Linked DNA regions of Homo sapiens. The protein of the gene in region 2 purifies or fractionates together with the protein of the main gene of each other region. This does not show direct contact. Each region holds a gene or a part of one and is shown on either strand. Other genes may lie near its edges. The genes, in order: HACD3, TRIM55, NUP93, ATP2A2, ARF4, CPVL and PFKFB4.

The links.
Region 1: the proteins of TRIM55 (region 2) and HACD3 purify together in Homo sapiens (affinity purification with mass spectrometry, with the first as the bait; one large-scale study listed by BioGRID). This does not show direct contact.
Region 3: the proteins of TRIM55 (region 2) and NUP93 purify together in Homo sapiens (affinity purification with mass spectrometry, with the first as the bait; one large-scale study listed by BioGRID). This does not show direct contact.
Region 4: the proteins of TRIM55 (region 2) and ATP2A2 purify together in Homo sapiens (affinity purification with mass spectrometry, with the first as the bait; one large-scale study listed by BioGRID). This does not show direct contact.
Region 5: the proteins of TRIM55 (region 2) and ARF4 purify together in Homo sapiens (affinity purification with mass spectrometry, with the first as the bait; one large-scale study listed by BioGRID). This does not show direct contact.
Region 6: the proteins of TRIM55 (region 2) and CPVL purify together in Homo sapiens (affinity purification with mass spectrometry, with the first as the bait; one large-scale study listed by BioGRID). This does not show direct contact.
Region 7: the proteins of TRIM55 (region 2) and PFKFB4 purify together in Homo sapiens (affinity purification with mass spectrometry, with the first as the bait; one large-scale study listed by BioGRID). This does not show direct contact.

The regions. Positions count from the first base shown.
Region 1 is NC_000015.10:65,571,480-65,576,172, forward strand, and holds part of HACD3 (very-long-chain (3R)-3-hydroxyacyl-CoA dehydratase 3), read left to right. Parts: intron 1-68; coding exon 69-175; intron 176-755; coding exon 756-887; intron 888-4,693. UniProt on the Homo sapiens protein: Catalyzes the third of the four reactions of the long-chain fatty acids elongation cycle. This endoplasmic reticulum-bound enzymatic process, allows the addition of two carbons to the chain of long- and very long-chain fatty acids/VLCFAs per cycle.
Region 2 is NC_000008.11:66,132,668-66,137,128, reverse strand, and holds part of TRIM55 (tripartite motif-containing protein 55), read right to left. Parts: intron 2,140-4,461; coding exon 1,974-2,139; intron 35-1,973; coding exon 1-34. UniProt on the Homo sapiens protein: E3 ubiquitin ligase that plays an important role in regulating cardiac development and contractility, muscle growth, metabolism, and fiber-type differentiation.
Region 3 is NC_000016.10:56,834,629-56,838,128, reverse strand, and holds part of NUP93 (nuclear pore complex protein Nup93), read right to left. Parts: intron 3,396-3,500; coding exon 3,351-3,395; intron 1,529-3,350; coding exon 1,412-1,528; intron 522-1,411; coding exon 403-521; intron 1-402. UniProt on the Homo sapiens protein: Plays a role in the nuclear pore complex (NPC) assembly and/or maintenance. May anchor nucleoporins, but not NUP153 and TPR, to the NPC. During renal development, regulates podocyte migration and proliferation through SMAD4 signaling.
Region 4 is NC_000012.12:110,346,510-110,349,875, forward strand, and holds part of ATP2A2 (sarcoplasmic/endoplasmic reticulum calcium ATPase 2), read left to right. Parts: 3' UTR 1-883; coding exon of another isoform or gene 884-903; 3' UTR 904-3,366.
Region 5 is NC_000003.12:57,579,758-57,584,450, reverse strand, and holds part of ARF4 (ADP-ribosylation factor 4), read left to right. Parts: coding exon 1-67; intron 68-443; coding exon 444-553; intron 554-4,693.
Region 6 is NC_000007.14:29,059,109-29,063,801, reverse strand, and holds part of CPVL (probable serine carboxypeptidase CPVL isoform b precursor), read left to right. Parts: intron 1-4,693. UniProt on the Homo sapiens protein: May be involved in the digestion of phagocytosed particles in the lysosome, participation in an inflammatory protease cascade, and trimming of peptides for antigen presentation.
Region 7 is NC_000003.12:48,535,551-48,540,243, forward strand, and holds part of PFKFB4 (6-phosphofructo-2-kinase/fructose-2,6-bisphosphatase 4), read right to left. Parts: intron 4,222-4,693; coding exon 4,147-4,221; intron 3,761-4,146; coding exon 3,704-3,760; intron 3,070-3,703; coding exon 2,948-3,069; intron 914-2,947; coding exon 706-913; intron 109-705; coding exon 1-108. UniProt on the Homo sapiens protein: Synthesis and degradation of fructose 2,6-bisphosphate.

The DNA.
Region 1 (4,693 bases), on a different chromosome or scaffold from region 2:
ATGATATTCTAAGGTTGCATTCGGAACCTGAAGTGGCTTTTCACATTGGAATCATTTATTTTCAATAGGTACTCTTTCTACATGCTGACGTGCATTGACATGGATTGGAAGGTGCTCACATGGCTTCGTTACACTCTGTGGATTCCCTTATATCCACTGGGATGTTTGGCGGAAGGTACTCTCAGGGACTCTTAGCTTTCATAGCTTAGCTCCAGGGGGTACCCAGAGGCTGAGAGACCAGTCCTTTCTTCCCCGGCCTTAGTCCGATAAATGGAAATGTTGGATTTTTCAGGGATTTCTTTCCATGGGCTTCCTTCCATAATACTCCTGGTACCCAGACTGTTCGAGAAAAGTAGCTCATTTTGTAACATTGGAAAGCCAGGTGGTTATGTCCTGCATGCTTCCCATTTGTATGATGCTTTTAGTATTCCAAAGGGGGTTCTTACTGATGACTTTATTTTATTCTGACAAACATCTCATACATAAGTCAGCTAGGGATTTTCCTCTCCATTTTATAGAATAGAAGAAGCCCACTACCATGACTTCCTCATCTGTCTCTCTGTTGACAGGTTGGAGGCTGATCTCTTAGAAAAGTAGGGGAAAAAAAGGAGAGGCATGAGCTTTCTGTACAAAGGGAGGAGAAAGCCTTTCCAGCACACCCAGAACTGAAACTTTAGAGTACTAGGACTGGAAGTTCCTGTCATTAAATGTGACTGTTTCATTTGCTTCTAACAAGTTCTTGTTTCTGTTTTCAGCTGTCTCAGTGATTCAGTCCATTCCAATATTCAATGAGACCGGACGATTCAGTTTCACATTGCCATATCCAGTGAAAATCAAAGTTAGATTTTCCTTTTTTCTTCAGATTTATCTTATAATGATATTTTTAGGTAAGTATTGATTCTTTAATACAGACTTTTTCTTGTCACTTCTTAGACAGTAGAATTAAATCATTCAGAAATGTAAAAGTCCATATGAGAATTCTTTTGGGACAGAATTAGAGAATGATTACTTTGCAAAAACAGACCCACTAGGGGAATATGCTATGGTAAGGAAATATTTCTTTTCTAAATCTCCAGCAGTTAAATTATGTTCTTTAAGTGCTCTTGGTGATTGGGAATATACCATAAGATATTTCTTGTTTAAAACAATGTAAGGGGACAGGCATGGTGGCTCACGCTTGTAATCCCAGCACTTTGGGAGGCTGAGGTGGGCACATCACAAGGTCAGGAGTTCGAGACCAGCCTGATCAACGTGGTGAAACCCTGTCTCTACTAAAAATACAAAAATTAGTTGGGTGTGGTGGCGGGTGCCTGTAATCTCAGCTACTCAGGAGGCTGAGGCAGGAGAATCGCTTGAACCCGGGAGGCAGAGGTTGCAGTGACCTGAGATTGCAGCATTGCACTCCACCCTGGGCGACAGAGCGGGACTTTGTCTCAAAAAAAAAAAAAAAATAAATAAATAAATAAAAATTAAAAAAAAAAAAGTAAGGAGCCTTTTAAAATAGACTAAGAAGCTCCCACTTTTACTAATTTCAGTAGCATATTCCTCATCCAGAGTTTATAGAGGTGATAAGACAACCAGCAGCAAGGAAGGAAGAAGGGAATAAAGGCCTCTGAGCAGCCAAGGGTTGTCATAAAGCCTTCCACCTCACAATAGGAAAGTCCCCTGCTCCTCATGGAAAACCTGCTGACCTATTAATTTATATAAAATCATAAATTCCTGCCTTTATAAACTAACAGAAGGGAAAAAGAAAGAAACCTAAATTATTACAAATATGACAAATTTAAAAGGCTTCCTAACTATAAGGATTTTTTTTTGTTGTTGTTGTTGTTAAATTCTTATTAGAGGCCAGGTATGGTGGTTCATGCCTGTAATCCCAGCACTTTGGGAGGCTGAGGTGGGTAGATCACTTGAGGACAGAAGTTTGAGACCAACCTGGCCAACATGGCAAAACCCTGTCTCTACTAAAAGTACAAAAATTGGCTGGGCTTGGTGGCGCATGCCTGTAATTCCAGCTACTTGGGAGGCTGAGGCAGGAGAATCGCTTGAACCCAGGAGGCAGAGGTTACAATGAACCGAGATTGTGCCACTGCACTCCAGCCTGTGTGACAGAGCAAGACTCTGTCTCAAAAAAAAAAAAAATTTATTAGTAATCAGTATTTGGTAATTTCTAAATGCAACTATACATGATTCTACCCATATTATCTATACTATACTCTATACATAGATGTGAAAATACATACATTCTTATGTGTAGGTTAAATACAATTTGAGAAAAATAATTTTTTCCTTTTAAGAGCAAACTAATACGTATCGATTTTAGTATGACAACTAAGAACATAAAAACAGAATGAAAGGAATTTTGTCATTAAATATATTTGAGAGGAGAAAACACTGATTATCATACATAGAACTTTACATGTTTAAGGATAAGACAAGCTCCTAACTATAAGGACTCTTTAAAGTTCTGATACATTTTAGTGGTAATTTATATATTTCTCCTTGCTTTATTTCACAAAAGACTTAAGGTGGCCCTAAATAAATATAACTGTCCAGTCTCCTAGCCACAGAAGGATGCAACAATAGTATATTAGTTCTCTATTGCTGTGTAACAAATGACCCCCAAAACTTAGCAGCTGAAAACAATAAATAGTTATTATCTCACATAGTTCCTGAAGGTCAGGAAGCAGCCTGGCTGGGTGGTACTGGCTCAGGGTCTCATGAGGTTTCAGTTAGGCTGTCAGCTGGGGCTGCAGTTTCTGTAGACTTGACTGGGGCTGGAGGATCTGCTCCAAGCTCACTCTTGTGGCTGTTGACAGGAAGCTTCAGTTTCTTGCCATAGCCCGTCTCCATATGGCTACTCATGGCATGGCTTCCCCCAAAGCAATTGGTTAGAGAGAGAGAGCCCGAAGCCACAGTGCCTAATCTCAGAAGTGACAAATCATCACACAGACCAACCCAGTATAACATGGGAGGGGACTACACAAAGGTATGAAATAACAGGAGATAGAGGTTGTTGGGATCATTGTCACGGCTTGCTACCCCAGACAGTGAGAGGAAGACCACGCAAGGTAAGCCCAGGAAGCCAGAAAGCCCAGTGGTCTTGGTCATTTAGTGTTGCGGGAGGAGAGACTTATACCATAGTATTAGGAGCCCCTTAGTGTGCCAGTGCCTGGCAGATGTACAGTTAAATAGTATACATTGTAGGCCCACGTCATTTGCAAAAGGTTAAAATTTCTTTCTTTTTTTCTGTTTCAGCAAAGGGTATAATCCATTTCAGAAATATTGCCAACCAAAAATATTAAAATGTTTTGCCCTTGAAGAGAGGAACCCTCAGTTCAGAAAATGTACTAATTAAAGACAGCTTTTTACCTTTATTACTGTATAAATTCAGTATAACTAGGCCCCATGAAATGGGCATAAGATAAAGAGGAATAAATATTGGAAAGACATTTAAAATATTTTAGTGAACAGGGTAGAGGGGTAGAAATATTTTAAAGTGCATTGACTTAGTATCTTTTTTTGTGTTGTTTATATTGTACACTCTAATTTGCAAGATTTTATGTTCATATCTACTTTGCTTATAGTGAATATGTAGTTGCTCTTTTCTTATTCTTTAGAATGAAATAAATCCTAATTTCACATTTATAATTTTGAAGCAGTGTAAACAGCCAGTTAACATTTGTATATAGGTCAAAGGACTTTTTAGTTTTTTTTTTTTTTTTTGAGACAGAGTCTTGCTCTGTCACCCAGGCTGGAGTGCAGTGGCACGATCTTGGCTCACTGCAACCTCCACCTCCTGGGTTGAAGCAATTCTCTTGCCTCAGCCTCCGGAGTAGCTGGGATTACAGGCACCTGCCACCATGCCTGGCTGATTTTTGTATTTTCAGTAGAGATGGGGCGTCACAATGTTGGCCAGGCTGGTCTCAAACTCCTGACCTCAGGTGATCCACCCATCTTGGCCTCCCGAAGTGCTGAGATTACGGTCGTGAGCCACCACGCCTGGCCATGTTCTTGAGTAGGCTTGAATTAAAAATTAGGTTGTTTCTGCACTTTAGATTTGTGCATTTCATTGTAAATTTTACTGTAAAAGAAAGAAAGAATATTGAACTATACCTACCTGAAGAATTAGGGGGGTGAGGTGTATTGATATCTGCAACTTAACACTGAAGTGCATAAAAAATGAGATGGCTGGAGGGATAGATGAATAGGGATGTGATATAGCCAATATAGTAAAAAGCAGTAAATCTAGATGTTCCCTGTATAATGATTTAATCTTTTGCGTGTTTGAAAATTTTATAAGAGAAAAAAATGTTTTAAACTCACTGGGAGGCTGGGTGTGGTGGCTTACGCCTGTAATCCCAGTACTTTGGGAGGCCAAGCTGGGCAGATCATTTGAGGTCAGGAGTTTGAGACTAGCCTGACCAACATGGTGAAACCCCACCTCTACTAAAAATACAAAAAATTAGCCAGGCATGGTGGTGGACGCCTGTAATCCCAGCTACTCAGGAGGCTGAGGCAGGAGGATTGCTTGAACCCAGGAGGCGGAGGTTGCAGTGAGCTGAGATTGTGCCACTGCACTCCAGCCTGGGTGACAGAATGAGACCCTGTCGCAATAAATAAATAAATAAACCCACTGGGGAAAAATTGCTTTGTGTCTATTGTATTGTTAATTTGTTCTAAATTGTACTCC
Region 2 (4,461 bases):
CCACGAGGATGGCGATGCCATCACTGAGCTCAGACTAATGAAGAGAAAACATGAACCCAATATCTTAGGGGTTTCCTAGCCACCCCGACTGTGAATTGGTCATAATATTGTCTTTACAGGTTCTTAATTTAGGATCCATGCAACCCCTAAGGACTAACAGGGAGGCCTGTGGACCTTCTGATATTGCAAGCAAACCTTTGTGTATGAATCCATTTGTGCAGGGAAAGGTTTCACAGTTTTCATCAGTCTTAATATTAAGATCAACATGTTCAAGCTAAAGAATTCTAAGTATTGTTTATAAATAGCATGGAGACCAATATGTGACTTCAGGGACCCAAATGGAATTATTTGCCTAGTGGAACTAAGGGTCAATTTTACTTGGGAAATGTGTATAGTAAATACTCATTTATTCAACAAATACTTATTATGGGCATAAGAATATAGTGTATACAGACACAAACACTCACACATTAGACTAAGTCATTACAAACTTCACACTGAAACAAAGAACTAGTTCTAGGGGAGAAATGTCAACTTTTAAATTCCTTTGCTCTTTTGACTTAGGAAGAGATTCTATTGTTCCTATTTACCCCCTTCCCAAGACTGGCTGATGGAGCCACCAGGAGCACTGGAGGGGCACTTGGGAGACCCATGCGCTTGGTCCAACTCTACCCCCAACTTCTCTGTGATGTTGGGCAAAACATATATTCAATTTTGACCCTAATTTTCTCACATTTAGAAGGAGAAGATTGGACCAGAACAGTGATTATAAAATATTTTAAAGCTGCAGAACCTTCTTCAAGTGAAAGCTAATATGGAGGTGAAGCTGCTTTGGCCAAACAGGAGCAAGGGTGAGGGTCCCACCAGTCTGTTCTTCTGTCCATCTCACATGAGTCTCCAGGCTCTGAAGGAAGGAGTGTGAAACAGCTACCATCCAGTTCTATTATGCTATGCTTTGGGGGAGGTGGGCAGAAGAGAAGGGGGAATAAATTGTAACTGGATTCAAAAATAAACAAATGTTGTGGATAATTTGCAAAATCTGTTTCTTTAGGACTTAGTGGCCACTAGCTGTAATTGGTGTTGCCCAAGAGTTTTGCTTCCAAATTTGATTTCAGCACTGATCTTCACAGTAAAACACTGATCAAATGTGGAACTGATGATTCTAAATGAAAGAAACTGAGTAGTGGAACTGCTCAAGTTCTCGGTGCCTGGAGTGGCTGCACCTATTGGAGTACCCAACTCCACTTTTATCTGTACCAGATGGATAAATTCTGACCTGCTCATGAATGAAACCAGGTTGGCAGGTTGGTAATGTGTAGAGGGAGACACTGTCTTTCTGTCTGCTCAGAATTAGGGGGCCATGGCTGAGGCCCTGGGGTCAGGGGGAGACACCACACTCAGAGGGGTTTTTAGGCAACTGGCCCTGGTGACAGGAGGGCCAGCACAAGTCTGTGTTTTAAAGCTGTTCTGTAACTGCATGTCATCAGTGTAACCCTCCCTCACTAAGAGTGCGGGATAAAAGGCATTGAGGAGGGCCAAAGAAATCTTTCATGGGTGGATGAAGGAAAGTATTCTGTGACTAGGGTAAAAAGCTGTCCTTTTCTTATCTGTAGTCTAAACTTCACATAAGCTGGAGCAGTTTGAGCTTTTGCTGGGTCCCCTAACATTGCTCATCATCAGCAACCTCCAAAGGGCACAAAAACAGGGATCGTGCCGTTCTGCACCACTTCCTGAACCTGGGCACCCCTGCCCTGTCTCGCCTGGTCCCCCACCGTCCAGGGAATTTGGTGTGTGCCTCGTGCACAACTGTGCACATGTCTTCCTGCAGACCTTGTGTGCCCTCCAGTGTCCCATGGCCCTGCGTGGCTTGGGCTTCCTCCTCCACCGCAGGGAGCCACTCACACTGGCCCCAGGAAGGCCCTAAGGTGTGGGGATGGGGAGGGGTTGCGGGAGGGAGGGAGCAGCTCTGTTACCTTCTGTCTCTGGAACACATGAGTGAGGGGAGCCACCTGGCAGTCTTTGTGTGCACCAAACACCTTGCACAGAGAGCAGGTGGGTACTTCGCAGTTCAGACAGTAGATGTTGATGCGCTCCTCTTCATGTTCCTCGCACATGGGCTGGTCGGATTTCTTTTCTGGCCTGGGAGGAGGTAGGCAGATAAATGTCCATCAGCTCTCACTGGGGCAATCTCATCAAGGCAGAGCTGATGTTGCTCTGCCTTGCAAATTCCTTCTCTTCCCTGTATGCCCAGCAATTCTATTCCAGAAGACCCCCAGGGGCCCTTTCACATGCTCAGAGCCCACCAAATTCAGCTTCCCTGCAGGTGTAGCAGGGGAGTGCTGGCAAATCTCTAACAACCTGCTTGGGGTAGGGACAGAGACGTGGAGATCCTGATTTGTACCATTTGCCCATTTCCATGGTGTATTTCCACATGGCCAATTTTAAGTTATTTAAGGTTTCAGAATCTGGTAGTGAAATTCCTGAAAGTAGAATATCGAACCCTGGTGAGCCATCAGGAACGTGGTCCAGCACTGTGTCTACATGCTCACAAGTTTCTCAAGGGACACTTTCCCATTATGGACCAAGAACAGGAAATTGTTGATGAACTAAAAGTCGAGTTTGCACCAGCTTTTAGGAGTAGCTAGATCGCCCCCCTCCAGCCTCTGGCCCCAGGAAAGACCCTTTTCACCTGAAGAAATGAGGATAGGTGTGGCTCACATGGAACCAAAATCTTCTGATTATTAATTCAAGTACTGGTTGGATGCAAATGTGTATGAGACGCAAGTGTGGGTGTACCTCCTTATATAAACCCCAGGAATTCTGATATATCCTATCTAATGACTGAGGCTGCTAATAGTTTTCAGAAGTATTCAAAAAATTCAAATCCAAATCCAGAAGCTTTCTTCAAATTTCCAAACACATAGTTATTTAGCAACATCTTAGATTTGGGACTACATTTTGTTTTGTTGCTATACAGATCCAATTTTTAAAAACTACAGGTTTTTATGAGCCATGAAATCAATTTAGGGAGCTATGATCTGCATTGTTAAAATAAAAATAGAATGGAATAGCAAATACTGTGAATTACATGTAGTAAAAATAAGTATTGCTGTTCGAAACTTTTGTTTCAGGTGTACGTGTGTATATATGTGACTGAAACAAAAGTATATGTGTGTTTGTGTGTGTGTGTGTGTTTGTGTATGTGTGTATATACATATGTGTGTGTATATATATCCGTCCATATATGTAAGTGGTCACAATGTAAAATGCACTTCCTACTGTAAATCATGAATACAAGTGTTTGAAACCCATCTTTTTTGATGTGTGGTATCTTGTAGCTGCAGACCCAGAACTCAGAGAAAGGCAGAGAACGTGCTGATGTGCCTCTGTAAGACGCTAATGTTCCTTTATAAGTTGCTAGGTGGACGTCAATTACTTGAGATTAGGCTAAACATTGGGAGAAGCCCTGGGTCTTGTAAGAAAATTGCACGGACTTCCAGTTTCAAAATTTTAGAATCTGACTGTTGCAAAAGGAATTTCTGTCTGGTCTTGCAGCAATATGCTTTCCATGAAGTCTATGACCTTCTGATTTGACCACATTATTTGGAACTCAAATAAGGAAGTCAACTCCACAATTGAGAAAATTATCCTCCTCTCAGGTCTGTCTGTTTCCTCCACTAGAATATCAGCTCCATAAGGGCAGGGGCCATGATGAGTCTTTTTTTTTTTTTGCTGCATCTCCAGTACTCGGAACAGTGCCTTGCACAGAGGCAGTGGCTCCATAAATATTTGTTGCACAAATGAGTGAGACAATGAAAGGGAATTTGACCTATTAAATGGACAGTATTCCCTGTGCTCTAGTGTAACACCACCCAGCTGGAGAAGGCATGGCAAATATGGGGAAAGCCTGGGATCACCTGGCACTCCTGAGTGGCAGAGGAAGAGACCAGACCACATCCTGATTACTCCTTTAATAAATGACAGTGCCCTCTGGGGTTGGGACTGGCAAGTTGGTCTCTGCCTGGTCAAAGGCTTCTTCCCCTCTAAACCCTTCCCTCGTAGGTATCTCCACCTTATTATTAATGTGGGCTAAGCAAGAGTGGGCAGCTTGGGTCCCACATGCTGTTCTGATATCAACAGCTGTGACCAGAGATTGCGTCATAGAGCACAGGTCTATGCAGTATATGCAAATATTGAAAATGTGAAAACAGCCATAAGGCTCTACATTTAGTTTTGTTTGTGATTCAATTTATTTATTTTTTTCATGGTGCTGTATACACTGAGAACAATTTCCCATATTCCTCATTGGGTTTTTCTTATTTAGGTTGTAGCCCAGCCCCAGAGGCACCACTTACTCATAGATGAGCATATAATGAAACCTCTGTACAACTTCAAACATGTAACTGACTTGGGACCGATTTGGCATGTAAAAGAATGACATAAATACATGTTTATGAGGTG
Region 3 (3,500 bases), on a different chromosome or scaffold from region 2:
GTAGTCTGAAACACTGGCCACGACACCTCTAAGAATCTCCCCCATCCAACCATCACTAGCTTTGGTCTTGAATGCCTTTGAGAGGGCTGATGAAAGTATACAACAGTATTTAGGCGAGCATAATGCTTAAAATTAAGCTTTATGTGCATGATTAAAATACTGAGATGCCCTTTCATACCCATTTCTTTGGCAAAAATGTTAAGTTTGATAGTACCAAGTACTAGTTCTGATGCGGGGACAAAGGAACTCACACAGTGCTGGTGGCATGGTGAGTTAGTAGAACCACTTTGGAAAGCTGTCTGCTGTTACCTAGTAAAGCTGAACATGCATTTGGGTGGGCATAGGTGGCCTGGCACTGGCAGTGGCACCCTCAGGGTCCCATGGAGCCAGCTCCTGGCTTACCGTTCGGCAATGGAGAGTGCCATGTTCTTCAGCCTCTCCTTGTTGGATTGCGGGGCACTGATCTGGGGGACGACAGGGCTCAGCAGTTTGTTCATCAGCTCCAGTACCTTGTCAGCATTCTGCTCAAGTTTTTAAAATTAAGGAAGCAATCAATAAAGTAATCAATAAAAGGAACAACTATATAATGCCCCCTACCCACCAAAGAGAACTTTCTGGGGTGACATTTTTTACCGCCTCCCAAGTTCAAGCAATTCTCGTGCCTCAGCCTCCTGAGCAGCTGGGATTACAGGCATGCACCACTATGCCTGACTAATTTTTATATTTTTAGTAGAGACGGGGTTTTGCCATGTTGGCCAGGCTAGTCTCGAACTCCTGGCCTCAAGTGATGCGCCTGCCTTGGCCTCCCAAAGTGCTGGGATTACAGGCGTGAGCCCCTGCACTTGGCCTATAGCTGTTTTTTTGTCTACTTTTCTCAGTTGATAAAGGAGAGAATGTAATCTTGTTTAGGTCATAGAATCCTTAGCAGTTATCATATGTTCTTAGTCATCATTTGTTCTTCGGTAGAAACATGTATTCTAGTCCTCTCAAAACGCCCAGCTAAGGTCTTATTTTCTTTCACTCCTTCCTGCACACTGATGTGGTCTTATTTTCTAACACCACTGTTCCCCAGTGTGTCTGTGGTTGCCAGGGTCAGCATAATGTAATTTTCAACAGTGGCTTCACCATCGAAATGTGATGGATGCTAATTCTGCTGCCAAGTGAGACAACAGTTCAATGCCTGCAGGACATCCTTTCAATATGTTGTTTGGTCAGAAAAATCTTATGGGCAGAAATAATGCTGTAAAATGGGAATTCTGTCCTGACTGGACCATTAACTGTCTAAGCACTAGAGCAAATGCCTCTGCAGGGAGGGTGCTACAACAATGACACTGTCCAAGTGGCTGCACATTTAATGCCAAAAGGCCAGCAGACCTGTGAAGTGCAAAAGAAGGAAGTGGGCACACTTTACCTTGGCAAGGTCATACAGCTTTGCTGCCTCTTCAAACAGTCCTTTATTTTCTGCCACAGAAGCAACTTTGTTGATAATAGGCTTTGTGTCACTAGTAAACTTATCTATGACTCCAGGCTGACAAGACAAATTATGGAGGGGGAGGAAGAGAGAGACGGGTGCACAGAGCTATTATTTTAAACACAGAGAAGCAATTAGGATCCAAAAAATACTTCAAGTGGAATTGCTTGCCCTGGGCAACGCATATATTTCATCAGCCAGACTCTGGCTTTCTTAAAGATATAAAGTCCTATTAAAACTATAAAAGAGACCAAGGAAACTACACATGAAAGGGCAGACTTACTAGAAGCACAGAGGAGTCAGCAATAAGACATCTGTGCTTTCTAATTTTCCAAAATGACCCAGAGAGTCAGTGAAATCAATGATTTTAAATTTGCTGATAAGTAGGAACTAGAGAGAAAAATCAGGAGGCTTAGAAAAAATATCTGAAAAATTTTGGATTTGCTTTCTAAGACAGATGGCAAAAGGAACTCAGTGCTGAAAAAACACACAGCAAGTGGTAACAGGACATTTCTTTTTTTTTTTTTTTGAGACAGAGTCTTGCTCTGTCTCCCAGGCTGGAGTGCAGTGGCGCAATCTCGGCTCACTGCAAGCTCTGCCTCCCAGGTTCACACCATTCTCCTGCCTCAGCCTCCCGAGCACCTGGGACTACAGGTACCCACCACCACGCCTGGCTAATTTTTTTGTATTTTTAATAGAGACAGGGTTTCACCGTGTTAGCCAGGATGGTCTCGATCTCCTGACCTCATGATCCACCCGCCTCGGCCTCCCAAAGTGCTGGGATTACAGGCGTGAGCCACCGCGCCCGGCTGGTAACAGGACATTTCTTAAAAAAAAATCACCATCACCACTCAACAGCAACTAAATGGTCAGGAGAGCATGAGAGAGGCCTTAGGCACCCTGGGAGAATGAAGGCAAGTGCATAACATCTCTGCCTGGCCATTCTGCTTCTCCACTAGCGCTGGACTCTCAGGGCTAGACCAGGTCAAGGTGGCTGGACCAGGTTGAGGTGACTTGCCCTGCCACTTGGGAGGTAGCAGAGGATAAGGTCTTATCTATGTTTCTAGCTCTGTCAACTCACATACAGTAGGAGCCTCCTGGCCCCAGTGCAGCCTGTTAAAGAAGAAACTATGCAAAGCACTCAGCACAATGCCTGTTGATTGTCACTGCCCAATAAGCAAGGCCACTGTCATCAGCACTGTCACTTGCCTTTCTTCTGAGGTAGATGGTGTGAGCAGTGTGAGCTCATCTACAGATTGCTGGGTCCAAATCACTCATTTTTACAAACGAGAAAACTCAGCCCCTGAGGGACAAGTGACTTTCCAAGGGCCACAGGGAGATTCAGGGTCATGACTGGTCTCTGACAACAGGATCTCTGACCCTCCTGCCATGACAACCAATGGGCATAGTGAGTCCTGAAATCCCTCAAGCTTCCAGAAGTATTTCCAGGGTCACTGTGGAGTTCAAAGCCCTTGGAAACTGCATTTTGAAGGAGGTCAAGTGCATGTCTAACTTTCCCATCTTGGGAGAATGGGTGCAGTAATCAATTTCTTTTCCTTGCATGTTTTCTGAGCCAAGAATGGCAGAAATGTATAATAGCATTCTCAGCTCAAAAAATGACAGGCATGAACAAATGAATATTCTGAACATAATAAAAAAGCTATGTAATCACAAATTAACATATTTTAAGGAGATATAAGTGTGTGTAAAACCAAGGTCATCATTTGGGCCCATAATTTTCATTCCATTTTTTAAATTAAGCAACTCTGTTCAGATTTGCATCTTTAGTACCTTGAATCTTAAAATCTAAGTGTATTTTTTGATATTTATAAATCCCCAATGGCTAACGAACATTTCTCTAAGGATGCATTTAACTCACCTTTCTACTTCCGTCATTCTCTAGTTTCCCAAGAATCATATCGAACTGTGGAAGGAAAAAAGTTTACTCAAATTATTGGACAAAGATATAAACATATTCCATAAGTCTTCAGAGAAAAAAGAGGGGAATCAAATGGGATGAATGGGATAA
Region 4 (3,366 bases), on a different chromosome or scaffold from region 2:
TTAATTTTTTTATTGTTTAAAGCAACTGTCTATTTCTGCTGAATTTTCACATGAACATACTGGCTGGTGATGGAGGTTTCATACTCTAGATTTTGTTTTGCTTTTTCTGACTCCAGTGGGGCAAGATTTTCCTTTTTTATACACATAATTAAAGTGTCCATTGACATGTACAGAGAACTAACACTATTTTATGCAAATATTTTTTTGTAGATGAAAAAGCATGTACAGTGTTCTGTTTAATACTCATCCTTGTATAAAAAAAATAGTTGAGCCAGCAGACATTGTCAGCAAATTAATTGGCAGCAGATTTTAGGAAATGAATGTGTGTGGTTTTTTTTCTAAAACTAAATAGCATGTATTGTGTCTTTTGCATGATGATCCGGATTTAATTTGATATCACAGTCTAATTTTTATTCATAAGCCAATTTTTCTGCACTGAGCAGAGTCTTGCTACCTCAGTCAGTATTGTTTTGGTTTGCTACTTCCCTCACCCACTTTGGCCTCCGTTCACCCCACCCCACCCCACCTCTCCCCACCTTACCCCCGCCCCGCTTGGCTTCTTCTTTAGGATTGTGATGGTTCGTTCTGTTTACATCAGTTTTAACGAGAGGTATGCCTGTACTCGCTTGTGCAGAAAACATTGTTCCAGATTCAATCGACTGGGTTTATGTCCCTTCACATAGTTTTTAAGGTTATTTATTTAAATGTCTAATGTATTTTATTGTAACAGACATTGTTTTGCCAACATTGCCTATTTCAGTGGCACGTCATCTAGTTTTAAAAAAATAAAACATTTTAAATGGACAGAGAAAAATAACTGTCTTGTCTTTAACTCGTAAGTGGCTTACCTGGGACTAACAGACATGTCCAACTTTCTCTCCAGTTCTTAGCTCAGAACTTTAGTTGTACTCTGCTTGAGGGGAAGAAGGCTCCTGCTCTGCTGTGTAGGTAGTCATAGGAATTGTATTCTTAATGTACAGGCACTAATTGTCATCTGTGATGTACATTTTATGCAAGTTTCTGCTGGCCTGGTATAGAGAACATAAGGGCAAGTGTGTATGTGTGTGTATGTGTGTGTTTTGTAAAATCTGTAAATAGCACATGACCAAATGAACATATTGTATAGAACTATTTTTATTTGAATGTGGCACTAACCACCACCACCGTTACTACGATCAATGTTTGCGCATGTTCGAGATGAGTCTCACCAACAGTGTGTAAGTCATTAACAGTCCTAACTGTGGTGTTTTCCTCCAATGCCTTCCAACATCCATCAACTAACGTGAGTATTTTCTTCCTGGGATTTGGATGCTTTAGCCTAAAGGTGACTGCCACCAAGTGAGATAACTGTATGTCACTAACTTATAAGCCGCCTCCATGGCAGATGCTGCTGTGCTCCCTGATGCCCTGTGAGCACCGGGGTTGCCTGTGGCGCCTGCCATGTGACTCGGGCGCAGCATCAGCTGGCTGGAGGTGTGGCTTTCATAGACCTCCACAGGCTGCCTAGGACAAGATGACCAGGAGGGCCCAAGCCAGACAAAAGCCGGAGTGGGGAGAGAGGCATTTCAGCCAGACCAACAGGCTGAAGGAGCTGTGCAGACTATTGCTAAAATGAGGGTTCGCAGCTGCCAGGAGTCATCCCAGAACATTGCTACTTATTTATTAAAAAGCTAAAAACTAGTGAAAGCAAGTAACTGAACCAGTGAACTCTGGGTATCGATAGGTTCGTCTTAAATAGGCCACTTCCCCACTCCCCCACCCCCCCTTGCTTGGTCTTGTCCTTGGTGGCTAAGACTTAGCTCTGCAGGGGATGTTAAAGCACAGTTAGTAGGACGTGGCTCTGCACAGCCCAAAAACCAGCTTACTCCTTAGCCAGGGTGTGAGGCCTCGACTATATTCTTCAAAATGTACTTAGGCTCTGGTTACTGGGATGGCCAGTAGATGTAATGCAGATGGTTGGAGTTTGGGGAGGGTTAGGAGGCATCAAGCAGGACAAGGTGCTGCTGAGTTCAGAGGGCCCACGTTCAAGGGATGGAGGTGGAACCTGGAGACCGACTCTTAAAAGCACAGTCCGTGGTTGGGTGTGGTGGCTCATGCCTGTAAGTAAGTCTCAGCCCTTTGGAGGCCACAGCAGAAGGATTGCTTGAGCCCAGGTACTCAAACCAGCCTGGGCAACAGAGTGAGGCCCTGTCAAAAAAAAATCAGCCTTACTGTGAAGCCTCCAAGGCTGCTCGCAGGCAGCTGTGGCTCTCGGGAAGGGAGGCTGCTTTGCCCAGCAGGGAACATTTGGGGCAGGGGGTAAATTTTGCCAGTTTGAGCATCATGAGGTGTAACAAGAAATGGGTTGAATGGGCCAAATGCAAGGAGTGCATCTCTGGGCTGCAAACTGACTTGAGTGCTGCACTATTGCTATTCCGTGCAAACAAAACTCAGCTTTTCCTGACTCAGTTCCTTGACTTAGTGGCCTTTACAAAAAAAGTTGAGTAGTGTGTGGCCTGCTGTCGCACAGCCCCTAGTTAGCTTCATGGTTTCTCAGCTTCAGACCCCTCCAGCCCACAGAGGAGCCCATGGAGGGACCCACTTCCCTTGGTCCAGACAGCTGGGAGTGGGTTAGGCCCACTGCTGTTTTGAGCAGGGCCACTTGCTCCATTTCACTGAAGGCTTTGCTGGGTGAAAACACTTCAGCATCTCCTCCTCAGGTCAACCCATAAAGACCAGGTCCAGCACCGTGGTCTTGGCACATCCCTGGCCTCAGGCCCTCACCTAACAGTGAGGCAGCAGCTGCCCAGCCCCGCAATGTGCCTGCTGTCAGGCAGCTCTTGCCTGAAACTTACTTCCACATTCTTTCCTGATGGGCAGGTGGCTGAAGGCCCAGCCATCAGTGTCGCTTGTTGCCACCCCGTGCCTCCCTTGGCCTCTCTGAGCTTTGCCCAGAAGACCAACAATCATACATACCCTAACTGGGACACCACTCTGCAGAATGCAGATGATCCATTCTGGAGGAAGCTGTCCCTTGAGCTCAGTGAGCTCCCAGGCAAGCAGGGCATCTGGCCGACTTCCCTCACAACAGCTGCTCCCACATCCCCTCGGACTGGAGCTTCAGCCCTGACTGAGGTGGGCAGACCTAAGACCTGAGACCACAAGATTAGCTCAGTGTCTACCAAGCATCTAGCCACTGTCCAGGGCCAGAGCATACCACGTCTGCAGTGCCTGTGAGCAGAGCCAGCAGTTGCCCTGTGACTGTAACCACCAAATTGTCCAAACACCCGCTGCAGTTAGCAAGAAGGGTAGGCTTCACCCTCCTTTACTGAGGAGAATGATGCGGAGGAGTTTCCTCTCCAGGGCTAGGCAAGGCAGGCGAGCAGC
Region 5 (4,693 bases), on a different chromosome or scaffold from region 2:
GCTGGCAAGACAACCATTCTGTATAAACTGAAGTTAGGGGAGATAGTCACCACCATTCCTACCATTGGTAAGAAAGTTTACAGATGACTTTATATCATGATATGTTGTAAAGTGAAATATATACAGTCTAGTTTTGAGATTGTCTTTTTGTTAAGCATGTTGATTATCTTAGAAGTACTTTTAAAACAGGCCGGGTGTGGTGGCTCATGCCTGTAATCCCAGCACTTTGGGAGGCCGAGGCGGGTGGATTGCTTGAGCCCAGGAGTTCAAGACCAGCCTGCATAACATAATGAGGCCTTGTCTCTGTTGATGTTTAGGCTTAAATATATTTTTTAAAAATAAAAAGAAGTACTTTAAAAACACTATTCTAAGAAAATTCCACAATAAAAGGTTTTATTTTCTTAATGACGCTGCACAGCGGTCATTTTTGTTTTTCTTTGTAGGTTTTAATGTGGAAACAGTAGAATATAAGAACATTTGTTTCACAGTATGGGATGTTGGTGGTCAAGATAGAATTAGGCCTCTCTGGAAGCATTACTTCCAGAATACCCAGGTAAGGGATACTGTATGTTTTTATAACTTTTCTTTGTGGGTTTCATGCTCTAAAGTTTTTATTAGTATCTAGTATTTACTTGGATATTGGTGTTTACTATGAGTTGGCATTTGTCTTATCACCACTTCCACATTCTTCAGTGGACTCTCACTTAGGCCTTGAAGGCTAACTTATATAGGGTGGAAGAGTTGTAAAGCAATTGCGGTAAGTGTTTGGAAGATGGGGTGGGTGCTGGTGTAGTTCACAAGAATGAATTAGGTCTCTTATCCGTAGTTCTTTGCTTTCCATCTTAGTTTAGAAAGTAAGGTCTGTATAAACTGTCATTGTAGTTTCTGATGAATGTAAGACAATTGATAGTCCTTTGTTTAGCCCAGTTACTTGTTTACTTTATTAAATACAGTAAAGTCAGTTCGCTGCATTGATTTGTAAGATATTTTTATATTGCCACATAGTATGTATATATAATACTGGCATGGAAGAGACTTTAGTGATCCTGTAGAACAGGAGTTCTCAAATTTGGGGGTGGCACGTAAGAATCACATGGGGACCTTTGAAAATCCCAAGACCTGGATCATCCCCTAGATGACTTGAATCAGAATATCAGGGGATATAATCCAGGTACAGTAGTGTTTCTTAAACTTTAATATGCATATCAATCACCTGGGTATTTGTTAAAAATACACATTGAGTCCATAGGTCCTAGCTAAGGCCTGAGATTCTGTATTTCTAGCAAGTTCTCGGGTTGTGCTGATACTACTGGTCTGGTATCTTACAGCACAGCACTATTGACATTTTGGGCTGGGTTATTCTTTGTTGTTGGGTATGGGGAGGGCTCTCTATGCATTGTAGGTTGTTTAGTGGCATCCTTGTCCTCTACCCACTAGATGGCAATAGCAGCTGCCCTCAAGTAGCAGCCAAAAATCTCTCCACACCTGCAAAATATCCCCTGGGGGCAAAATTGCTCCCTGCTGAGAACCACTGTTCTAATCTAACTCTCTTACATATGAGGAAACTGAAACTTGGAATGACTTACCCAAGATGGGAGAGTTTGTTCTCACTCTACCTTTGTTTAACCTGGTCCCACCTCGATTGTGTTTTCTACCACCCAAGGAATTTCTTGTCAGTTTTTTTTTATTACTTAATAATTTTTTTTAAGTGTGATATCACTGCCACTTTATATTTTTAAGACTTGCAATGTCATCTTGTTATCAGCCTCTTAAAACATTGCATACAAGTGGGGTTTATTGCCATCAGGTGGCAGTGAATACCCTAGGTGAGTGGCTGGGACAACCAGGTTTACATAGTATGTCATATTAAATAAGTGGTATACTTTTTTATTTAAAAACGAGAATGTTTAGGCCAGGCACGGTGGCTCATGCCTGTGATCCCAGCACTTTGGGAGGCTGAGGCGGGCGGATCACGAGGTCAGGAGTTCAAGACCAGCCTGACCAACACAGTGAAACCCCGTCTTTACTAAAAATACAAAAATTAGCCGGGCGTGGTGGCGCGCACCTGTGATCCCAGCTACTCAGGAGGCTGAGGCAGGAGAATCACTTGAACCCGGGAGGTGGAGGTTGTGATGAGCCGAGATCACACCATTGCACTCCAGCATGGGTGACAAAGCGAGACTCTGTCTCAAAAAAAAAAAAATAGTAGAATGTTTATGGTCATCAATATAGCTGTGACTAGAAAAGATACTTGATACAGAGGCACATGCTTTAAAAAGCTTCCTTATGGAAAATGTTAAATACAAGGTGAACATTCCTTATCCGAAATTCTTGGGACCAGAAACCACTGTTTCTGATCTCAGAATTTTGGGGGTTTTGGAATATTTGCATTGTACCCAGTTGAGCATTCTAAATCCAGAAATCCAAAATCCGATATACTCCAGGGAGTTTTTTCTTTGTTATGTTGGTGCTCGGGAAGTTTTGGATTTGGATTTTTGGATTAAGGAAACTCAATCTGTACACCTACAAATAGAATAGCATAATAAACTCACATGTATGTATTATGCAGCTTCAGTTACTAGGATATAAGCAGTGCTGTGTTGTTTCATACTCATCTCTAATGTGCTCTACCCTCTAGACAGTTTGTTTATTTTTTTTGAGATGGAGTTCTCGTCCTGTCACCCAGGCTATGGCGCAATCTTGGCTCACTGCAACCTCTGCCTCCTGGGTTCAAGCGATTCTCCTGCCTCAGCCTCCCAAGTAGCTGGGACTTCAGGCATGCGCCACCACACCTGGCTAATTTTGTATTTTTAGTAGAGACGGGGTTTCACCATGTTAGCCAGGCTGGTCTCGATCTCCTGACCTCATGTGATCCACCTGCCTGGGCTTCCCAAAGTGCTGGGATTACAGGCATGAGCTACTGCGCTTGGCCAATATATTTTGAAAGAGTTAGATATGAAGTAAAACCTTGCTAATCCTTAAGCCTAATAATTCTTGACCAAGGGTAACCCTGGGTTTATCCCTAGATTTGTTTAGAATGCTTTGTAATTTACTTTGCATTCTTAATTTGAAATTAGACCCAATTCTGGCCTCTTTGGACCATCTGAGAATTAAAAGTCTAAGTACTGCTTCCTAGGGAGTTCATGCTAGCTGGGGAAAGCTTTATGTGTTACCTGATAGAATCAAAGCTAAGCTCTTAGCTTGCATTCCCAGCATTACTGATCAGTTCTCCTAGCTATAAAATTTAAAAGAAACTATAGCTTTAACCATGTTTCTAACTTATACTAACAAACCATGGCACAGTGTGTAGTAAATTCCTCTTATAATTCCAACTAATTTGCCATTGTAAATAAGTAAATATTTGGCTTTTCAAATAATTTCATAGCAGCTGGGCTTATCTGTAGAATCCTAGCTTTTCTTCACTCTTGATTCTAGGCTGTTCCAGGAAGAAAATAATTAGGGATTAATACCTAAAATAATTCTCCTTCTCAATAATGTCACTTTGGGACTGATAGCATTATTTGCATTTTAAAACAAAGGCTGGGTGCAGTGGCTTATGCCTGTACTCTCAGCACTTTGGGAGGCTGAGGTGGGAGGATCGCTTGAGCTCAGGAGTTTGAGGCCAGCCTGGGGAACATAGTGAGACCCTGTCTTTACATTTAAAAAAAAAAAAAAAGAATAAAAATGGGAAGTTAGCAGTCAAAATAAAATTAGGTCCCTTTTAGGGGCATTACCTCTTGTAAAGGGTAGGTTTCAGGACCGGGTGCTATGGCTTATGCCTGAAACACCAACACTTTGGGAGGCCATGATACGAGGATCACTTGAGGCCAGTCCAGGCAACAGAGTGAAACCCTGTCTCTACAAAAAAAAATTAAAAAAAAATTACCTGGGCATGGTGGCATACTCCTGTAGTCCCAGCTACTTGAGAGGCTGAGGTGGGAGGATCACCTGAGCACAGGAGTTGGAGGCTGAAGTGAGCTACAGTTGCGCCTCTGTACTCCAGCCTGGGGGACAAAAGGAGACCTTGCCTCTTTTTTGAAAAAAAGAAGAAACAAAAAAATGGAAGGTTTGGTTCTAAAAAGGAGTAGCTTTTGAAATATGGAAAGGAGGAGACATATTTGCTAAATAAATGCCCATGATAAGCCAAGAACAATGATCTTTTATATCTCTGTGATTGCATTTAATCTTTAACAAGCTTATGAAGTTAGTATTTTTATTTTATTTAGACGAGGCATAGTCAAGGATTAGATAATATATATAACAAGTAGTATAAGATTTGAATTTGAGTCTGTCTTCCCACCACACTATATTGGCTCCCAAAGCATCAAACATTATTTTTTGTTTTTGAGATGGGGTCTCACTCTGTTACCCAGGCTAGAGTGCAGTGGCATGATCATGGCTCACTGTAGCTTCAGTCAACCTCCTGGGCTCATGTGATCCTCCCTTCTCAGCTTCCTAAGTAGCTAGGACTATAGACATGTGCCACCATGCCCTACTAAAATTTTAATTTTTTTCGTAGAGACAGGGTCTTACTCTGCCCAGGGTGATCTTGAACTCCTGACTTCATGTGATCCTCCCACCCCAGCCTCCCAAAGTGGTGGGATTAGAGGTGCCATGCCAGCCAAAAGTTTTCTCAAAGGATAGGATATTTAAAGTGATGGTTTTCCAGGTGGTATAGATGCAGTGTAAAATA
Region 6 (4,693 bases), on a different chromosome or scaffold from region 2:
TCAAGATTTTGAGACCAGCCTGGCCAACATGGTGAAACCTTCTCTCTACTAAAAAATACAAAAACTAGCTGGACATGGTGGCGGGTGCCTGTAATCCCAGCTACTTGGGAGGTTGAGGCGTGAGAATCACTTGAACCCGGGAGGCAGAGGTTGCAGTGAGCCAAGATCGCAACATTGCACTCCAGCCTGGGCAACAGAGCAAAAACTCTGTCTCAAAAAAATAAAAATAAAATAAAATAATTTAACCACTTTCCCCTGATTATTCCTTAAAATGAAATTCCCTTTGGCACACACCACTTCTCATCCTTTCTTGAGAAAGGAAGAGTTGCAGAGCCAAAAAGATGACTGGCCGTGTGTAAGAGCCAGATTTCTCTTATGTGTTGCTTTGTTACATGAATCCCAATGACGTCAGGGATAAATGAAATCAACTGGTTATTCTGAAAATGCATTTTGCCTAATGGTTGTATTCATTCACTTTACCCAATCACAGTGTTTTGAGTCTCTCCTTAGGGTGTGAGGTTGAAATGATGAATGAGAAAGGGTCCCTGTTTGGAAGTAGGTCAAGTCAAGCCATTGTGCTGTCTGGTTGAAATGCTCTGCCTTTGCTGCCAGTGGAGGTGCCAGTGGAGAGTGAGGTCACAGAAAAGGAGCCCTGGAGGTTCAGGCAAAGAAGACATGGGCCCTGGAACTCCCACTGGGAAGGAGGACACCAAGAGCAAATGACATGGGGAAAGTCAGCCTGTGTATTATTTCTTTCCTGGTACTACGCTCTCAGCTCCTCCTCTGGTCCTCCAGTGCTGTTAGCCTTTGCCCAAGGGATCGTCTCTAGGGCAACTCCGAAGGATGCCTGTACTGATGACTGGGGAGACCACCACTGAGTGATCCACTTCCTCCCTATATCCTGTTTTGAATGAACAAAAAACAGGGCAGTCGGCAGCCCATAGGATTTTTGTATGAATTAGAATAAAGGCATCCTCTCCTCAAGATACTTTATTTCGATCTTTCAGAAATTGTCCTGATATACTGCCTTAGTTAAAACCAGACTCTTTACTGCCATTTGCTGGCATGCTGAATATTCATTTCTACAATGTGTATATTAGGAATGGTGTGTCTTAGGATTGTTCAGTGCACAATCTGCAATACTATCCAGGCAGTCCCTGGCCAATGCACCCTAACTAGACTGTGGTTTAGAATATGCCAGACCTAGGAGGCCCATTTCTGGGTCCTGCTTCTAGTACAGTGTTGGACACGTAACCATTGTTGAAAATAGTTTAAGACCAATTATATGCCAAGTCTACAAACCCATTATAAACCTGCAAAACTTGATGAAATACTTACTTTCTTGGAAAGAAAGAGTCTAACTAGGTCAGGCCAGCATTTCAGCCATCCTTGTGTTTGGTTTTCTTGGGGACATGTAGTGGCCCTTAGTGCTTGCTGCTTCAAGACTTCTCAGAGGACCTCCAGAAGGCACTGCTGTTTGTCCTCTCCTCTGAGCTCTCAGAACGCGTTGTCTTTACCCCCATAGGTGTACATGGCACACTCTAACGTGCAGACTCTCAGTCTGACACCCATACCACCACCAGCCTGGAGCAGATGTCAGGAATGAATGAATGATTAGTGCTGTATCAAAAATATATCTATAAACCTGTCCATAATCCATTAGGTGCTTATTATCCACAAATTTATTAAACCAAAAAGAGGTTAGCGTTCATGTCTTAAAGATGATGTTCTGTAATGTGATGTTAAGGAATGGAACGAGTGAATTTTTTTGAGAGGAGAGCAGATAAGTTTGATATGTGTTATTTGTGCCCTTGGGAGATATATTTTCTCACTGTACACACTTTTTTTTTTTTTTTTTGAGATAGAGTTTTGCTCTTGTTGCCCAGCTGTAGTGCAATGGTGCGACTGGCTCACTGCAACCTCCACCTCCTGGGTTCAAGCAATTCTCCTGCCTCAGCCTCTCAAGTAGCTGGGATTATAGGCATGTGCCACCATGCCCAGCTAATTTTGTATTTTTAATAGAGATGAGTTTTCTCCGTGTTGGTCAGATTGGTCTCAAACTTCTGACCTCAGGTGATCCGCCCACCTCGGCCTCCCAAAGTGCTAGGATTGCAGGCATGAACCACCGCACCTGGCCTCACTGTACAAATTTAACTAGAATATGATTCCTTTCTCAGCCATGTGAGGGTAAGGTGGGACAAACAGCTTACCTGATGACATAAACTCTCCTTATGTTTTGACTGATAAAGGAGAATATATTGATTAGAGGTGATCCTGCATTTTGATATTTAAACTTCTCTGTCCCTCTTGCCCATGTATCCTAAACTTACCACTATGAATTCCAATAAAATCAAAATCCAGTATTTTCTAAACTTTTCTTTTCTTTTTTGAGACAGAGTTTCACTCTGTTGCTCAGGCTGGAATGCAGTGGCACGATCTCGGCTCACTGCAACCTCCACATCCCGGGTTCAAGTGATTCTCCTGCCTCAGCCTCCTGAGTAGCTGAGATTACAGGCACATGCCACCATGCCTGGCTAATTTTTTTTCCGTATTTTTAGTAGAGACAGGGTTTCACCATGTTGCCCAGGCTGATTTCAAACTCCTGACCTCAGGTGATCCACCCGCCTCGGCCTCCCAAAGTGCTGGGATTACAGGTGTGAGCCACCGTGTCTGGCATAAACTTTTCAACTCTGAATCGGTTGCCAGAAAAAGAAAAGAGTTTAGTGGTATAGATAAACCATATTTCCATAAAGAAACAGAACAAAATATGCCACCAAAAAGTGGCTGCTGCTAAAACAGACAGCATGTTCACTCACGCAGCTGGCAAAGCGCTTGGGATAGTGATTATCTTTGGCTTGTCTGTTAATGATGTTGAACCTCAGTGTTCAGAACGGGAATCAGAACAACCTAGGTTGGCTTAAAACGTTAGTACCATTAAAGTCATATTTATGTAAGACTCGGTACTAATTTGTCATAGAAAATAGCATGCCTGTTTCTATTCATAGGAACTAGAGGTCTTTTTCCAGTACTGGGTTCATTTTGGCCAATGTGGAGCATCTCTGATGGTTGAAGGAAGACCTTCCTGGGTTTCTGGAATTACGTTTTCATGTAGTTTCTGTATAAAAATTAGCTTCTCTGTAAACTACGTTAGTTTCTATGTAAGCTACGTGAAAACATAATCCTTTTCTTACAGTGATATACAGGAGATGCATACTCAAAAGTCATTTTCCTTTCAGTAATTTCAGATGTTTGGGTGGTAAATTGAAATATCATATTGGCAGTTTCAAAAATAACTAGAAAGAGAAACAATCTGTTGGGCTATTTGAATTCTTTATGACTGAATGAAGTCAAAACATGATCAGGACTTTTAGGAGTTAGCTGGTTAATAGAGTATGGTGGTTATGAACATGTTCTTAAGTTGCATATCTTGAGTTTGAGCTCTGGTTACACCAGTCACTGGCTATGCTCCTTTGGGAGAGGAAACTTAAACTCTCTGCGCTTTGGCTTCCTTGTCTATAAAACAGGAATAAAAACAGTATTTATGTGTGAGTTTCTGTGAGGTTTAAATGAGATTATATATGTAAACACACTTAGAAGAGTGCCTGATGGTTAGAAGGTGCTTATTTATATATATATAAGCTATTACCAAAAATGTTCAACAAATTTTGTGAAAGTCTTTAAGATCTTGCTACATTCAAAAGTTATACAAGAAACCCTGGAAAACACAAAAATAAAAAAGAATGGACAGGCTTCCAGTTTCCATTCCAGTGTGTAAGAAGCTTAGAAGTCTCCACTCCATTGTAACAACAGTAAAAAGCCAAACAAACTGAAATATAATCAAGAACTCTTTTTAGATTTGTTGAAACTGAGGTCACAGGGCAAATTGCTGCCCTCCAAAATTAGAGAGAGAGATGAATATAGGGAGTCAAAACTTAACAGGAGCAAACCTGTAAGTAGAACCCTCCATGGAAACAAATGGTGAGGAAGGGAAACCTGAACAGTAATTGGTAAATTACTAGAGGCTCCATAGGGACAAGTCTGAGAGTTTAAAACACCATGGGTGGGGAGAGGACTCAGCCAAAGGTCACTTGTAAATGACCTTTATTATGTTGAGGGACTTTTCTTGTATACCCAGACTGTTGAGTGTTTTTATCAAGAAAGGATGTTGGATTTTGTTGAATACTTTTTGTGTCAATTGAGATGATCATGTGGTTTTGTCTTTCAGTCTGTGATGTGTCACTTTGATTAACGTACCTATGTTAAACCAGTCTTGCATGCTAAGGGTAAATCCCACTTGATCATGCTGTAGAATCTTTTTGGTGTATTGTTGAATTTGGATTGCTAATATTTTATCGATAATTTTTGCATGAATGTCAGAGTTACAGCCTTGCAGTTTTCTTTTTTCTTATGATATCTTTGCCTGGCTTAGGAATCAAGATAATACTTGCCAAAAAATCTATGATTAATATGCTAAGGATTTTAATGGAAAAAGTAGACAACCTGCAAGAACAGATGGATATTGAAAATAGAGATATGGAGATTATAAGAATCAAAAGGAACTGTTAGAGATCAAAAACACTGTAACAGAGATAAAGAATGTCTTTGGTGGGCTCACTAGTAGACTGGACACAGCTGAGCTAAGAGTAGCATGAGGATGTAATAAATAAAAGCTTCCAAAACTGAAAAGTAAAGA
Region 7 (4,693 bases), on a different chromosome or scaffold from region 2:
CACACCCAGTGCCTCAGCCGTCTGGATTGTCCTCTTCATCTGGCTTGTCCAGACCTTCAGATCCTTGATATTTTGGTCACTGATGAACTGGGCTAGACTCTTGGCAAACTGAAATACATCATAAGCAAACTCAGACCCACAGGTCTTGGGCTGCCCTTAAAGCATCCCATAGCCGCAGGGTCCATGAGATCACCCTCGCCTTGAACACTCACTACAGGTTTGGTAAAAAGCATGAACTAACTTGTCGATGACACACATGCTGACACACAAGAACACAAGTGCTGTTCCTGTGCACCCTCCCAGACCCTGAGCACAGCAGCACAGTTACAGCTGAGACTCATCAGGGCCACTGCCTCCCCACAACCAGGTGCCCTGTGCTACGTGACCACTGAGGTCTCCCCTGGACTGTGGCACAGCTATCTGCTACACTGTATGGACTCAGGTCGCTCTAAGGGTGGCATGCCTCTGACAAAAGGGGCTCAGTGAGTGACAGCTCACATGGAAACCAGAGATCCAGGCATTTGCCTGTTGCTTGATGACCTTCCCTACATGATGGGAAGATTCTAGGTTGAATGAAGGTCATTCACCTCGACTGCACATTAAAAGAATGGGAGCCTAGCCCCAGCGCACTCACACATGCATATACCCAGCCACGCAGGGTACAAATGCAGGCCCGTGTGCGCACGCAGGGACACATGCACTGACCTCCCTGCCCCGAGGGGACAGTCCTGGGTCCCCGCCAATCCGGCCCTTGAGGTTGAGCTCGCTCTCCCCGTGCCGGCAGAGGTAGATGGAGCGGGGGGTCACGTGGATGTTCATGAGGTAATATACGATGCGGCTCTGGATGTGGTCAGCCACACGGTTCACCACGTAGCTCTGGCCCACATCCATGATCTTGATATAGGACAGGTCCCTGTCCAGAGAGAAAGTAGAAAGAGGCCTGTGAGCGTGGCCAGGGTTCTCACAGAGCACATCTGGCTAGCCACGGAATCTAGCTGCGAGGCCTTGCACTTCCAACCACCAGAGATTACAACCCTCAGGACCGTCAGCTGGTGTGCGAGTGATGGGGGTGAGGCGGGAGCAACACAGTGCGTGTGACGCACAGGCAAACCCTGTGGGAGACGGGAGATGGGAGGTGCTCGTCACTCATCATGCTTCCCAAAGGTGACATCCAAAGTGGGGGGTCCGCCATACCACATCATGACTTTCTCCGCTGCTCATGTGTCCCTGGGGCCCCTGTTGGCCTATCTCCGCACTCTCAATACACTGTCTGTAAGTTGAACCAAGAGACAGTTTTCCCGAGGGTTGTTGACTTGGGAGTAGCTGGCAAACGCTCCACGCCCTCACTCTTCCTGGTCAGCTGTACAAGGACCTGGCCTTTCCTTCCCCAGTGACCTCCTCCCACTAGAGCCCAGTCCTGGTCATCCAAGTGTGCTGAGCAGCTGCCACACCCCATCCTGGGCAGCTGGTGGATGAGACAGGAAGCACAGGAGGATGGTGCTGGTGGTGGCAGCCGATAAGTCCAGCTCAGCCACTTTCCCTACTCTGGACCTATGTGGCACTGCAGCTTGGACAGCACATTGATCAGTCTCTGGGTGTGGGGGTGCAGGGTGGGCTCTGGTTCAGGCTGAGAGTCCTCTGGATATTCTCAGTTGAGCTCTCACTGTCTGGACCTTGGGACCTTGGTTTGGGGGTGTCACGATGACACCACCAATAAAAGCAAGAGCAACGCTTACTGACAAATCCAACAGAAGCCGCTCCAGACAAATGGATCACATCACAGAACCATGAAGAGAAATGCTGTGCTGGGGGACCATGAAAGCCATAGAGAGGCCCAGGTGGCAGGTGCCATTCAGCTCAGGCCCGGCCTGGGCTGGCTCTAGAACCCAGCTGAGGACCCTGCTCTATGCACACCCCAAAAGCATTCATCTCAGAGTTGCTTGTGTTTCTTGGTTCATGTGCATCCTTTTTTTTTTTTTTTTTTTTTTTTTGAGACAGGGTCTCACTCTGTCACCCAGGCTGGAATGCAGTGGTGCAACTGCAACTCACTACAGCCTTGACCTCCCTGGGCTTAGGTGATTCTCCCACCTCAGCCTCCCGAGTAGCTGGGACTACAGCCATGCGCCACCACACCAGGCTAATTTTTGTATTTTTTGTAGAGACGGGGTTTCACCATGTTGCCCAGGCTGGTCTCAAAATCCTAGGCTCATGCAATCCTCCCGCCTCAGCCTCCCAAAGTGCTAGGATTACAGGCATAAGCCACTCTGCCCGGCCCGTATTACACAATCTTATAGAATTACAGAACCTAAGCACAAGTTTGTATTCCAGCCTTTTCACTGAATGCAATATTATATTTTCCCATGTCTCTCCACAATGACGAGTTGTAATGATGACTGTAATACTTCACCAAGGGCTACATTATTATTTACCCAGCCACTGCCCCATGTGTTCTGTAAGACAGGATTTGGTAAACTGTGGCCAGCCAGTCGAACTCAGCCGTGGGCTGTTTTTATCAAGTTTTACTGGAACACAGCTATGCCCATTGATTTACATATCATCTATGTTTCATTTGTACTGTGACAGCAGAGTGAGTGCCTGCAACAGAGACTGTACATCCTCCAAGGTCTAAATAAAATATTTACTCTCTGATCTTTGACAGAAAATATTTGCCAACCCCTGCTTTAAGACCCCTTGCATAGAAATTCGGCTTGATTTCATGATGGAATAGTATAAAATCCTGACTCGCAGAGTTTTGGATGAGGTAACCGGTGTTCTGCAAGTCACCTCTGACCAAACATTTCTGCCCCAAGGAAATAAACAAGAAAGGTCAGACCATCTCTGCTTTTTGGTCCTCCAGCCACCACCATGGGGAGCCATAGGAGGCAGCCAAGTATGACCCCTGCCGCCCACCATCACAGCTGCAGGGCCTGGCGCTGCCCTGACTCACCTATCCAGGTCCTCATCTAGCGACTCGTAGGAGTTCTCATAGCACTCAATGCGCCTCATGAAGTCCTCCGTAGCCTCATCACTGTCGCGGTTGACATAGTCAGGGCTGCCCAGTTTCACTTGCTGCCGGAGCCAGGCACAGAGAAAGGACATATCAGGGTCAGGAGCCAGGCGGGGCCAGAGACCAAGGAGACTGCTGGGCAGGGGGCTGGAGGAGGTTGCACCGGAGACCAGTGCGGGAACCTGAGGCTGGAAGCTGAGGTGGGGGCTGGTCCAGCAGCTCCCTGGTCTGAGTTCTCACACCAGTGCCAAGAGGGTATCACTGAGGGTCCAGGGATTGAAGTCCCTCATCCTTGTGGTACAGGGGGAGGCCTGGAGGCCGTTCCCCACCCTGAACTCTCATTTTCCCAGACCCAGATGCCCATTCCTCAGATAAACTGGGGGAGGGGAAGGAAAGAATGAGTCTTTCTTTCTCTGAAATATAAAACATGCCCCTCACCCACCCTTCCACCCCTGCTGAAGGTGCTCTCCTAGTGTCCAGGTGGTTACGAGGCGGAGGTGGGGTGAGTGAATGTCCACCAGCCACCCAGCCTTCCACAGTGATCCACAGAGGGCGAGGCATACCTGACCCAGCATTTGAAGTTACACTTCCTCCCTACCCCCACAAGGTTCAAGATCAAATTAAGGTTAGCCAAAACCTGAAAAGGGATGTCCCTGTCACACACGACCTTCTGACAAGGTCAGATGCACTACTCACCACGATGTTGGCAGCTATGACCTCAGGATCCACACAGATGGACTCGACAAAAAAGGTCTGCGGCAGGACCAGAAGCGCCGGGGTGGTGGGAGGGAGGAACACGGACATGTTCAGGGCCTCCCGCCTTGCTCCTCGGAGCTCTCCATCCCCTGAGGCCCATGCTGACAAGCAGCCAGGCCCTGAAACCCTGCTTCAGAGGGCTGGAGGCGGGGTCAAGGAGTCCAGAGCTAAAGCAGGTGCTGCCCTCTCCTAGACTCTCCCACGAAAACCCCCTTCCCTCTGGAAAGCAAACCCCAAGTGGAGACAGCCCCTCTCATCCCAAATTACACTCAGGAGCCATGCCAGCCCCATGCCCCTCATGCATAAGCAGGCGGTGAAAGGAGCCCTGGAGGGCAGGGGACATGCCACAGTTCCGCCAAGGAGAGGAGCCAAGGAGGCCTCACCTTGTAGCCATTCTGTTCTCCAAAATTAAAGATGGTCGCTCTCCGTTCTCGGGTGGTGTTTGTGGCATCAAAAACCTAGGACCAAACTAGGGTTAACTCAGCCTCTGGCCCTGGGGAAGGAAGGGGCCAGAGTGGGCCCTGAAGTGGGCAGTGAGGGCCGCAGCACAGGCTCTCTGGGGACTGGATTTCTCATAAGGACCAGCTGCTGCCAGGTCCACCTGCCTGGCCAGTCTCCTCCAGACTTGCAACGGCTGGGCTGGCCCTCCCCTTCCTTGGAGAGAATGCCCCAAGGAAGTTAGAAGGAGAGGATGCCTGTGCTCCCAGCAGGGGAGCAGACCCGTGGCACAGAAGAACCTACTCAGTGCTGCTCTGCACACAGTGGGCACTCAGTTTGTGTTTGACCAACAGGAATTGCAGTGAAACCAGTTAAACCTAGTAAACTGAACCTATGTTTATTTCTACTCCATCCTGACACCCCAGTAAAATGGGAACAGAAGGATAAAGAGAAAAAGAGATGACAGGAGAAAAAGGAGACAACAGGAGATGG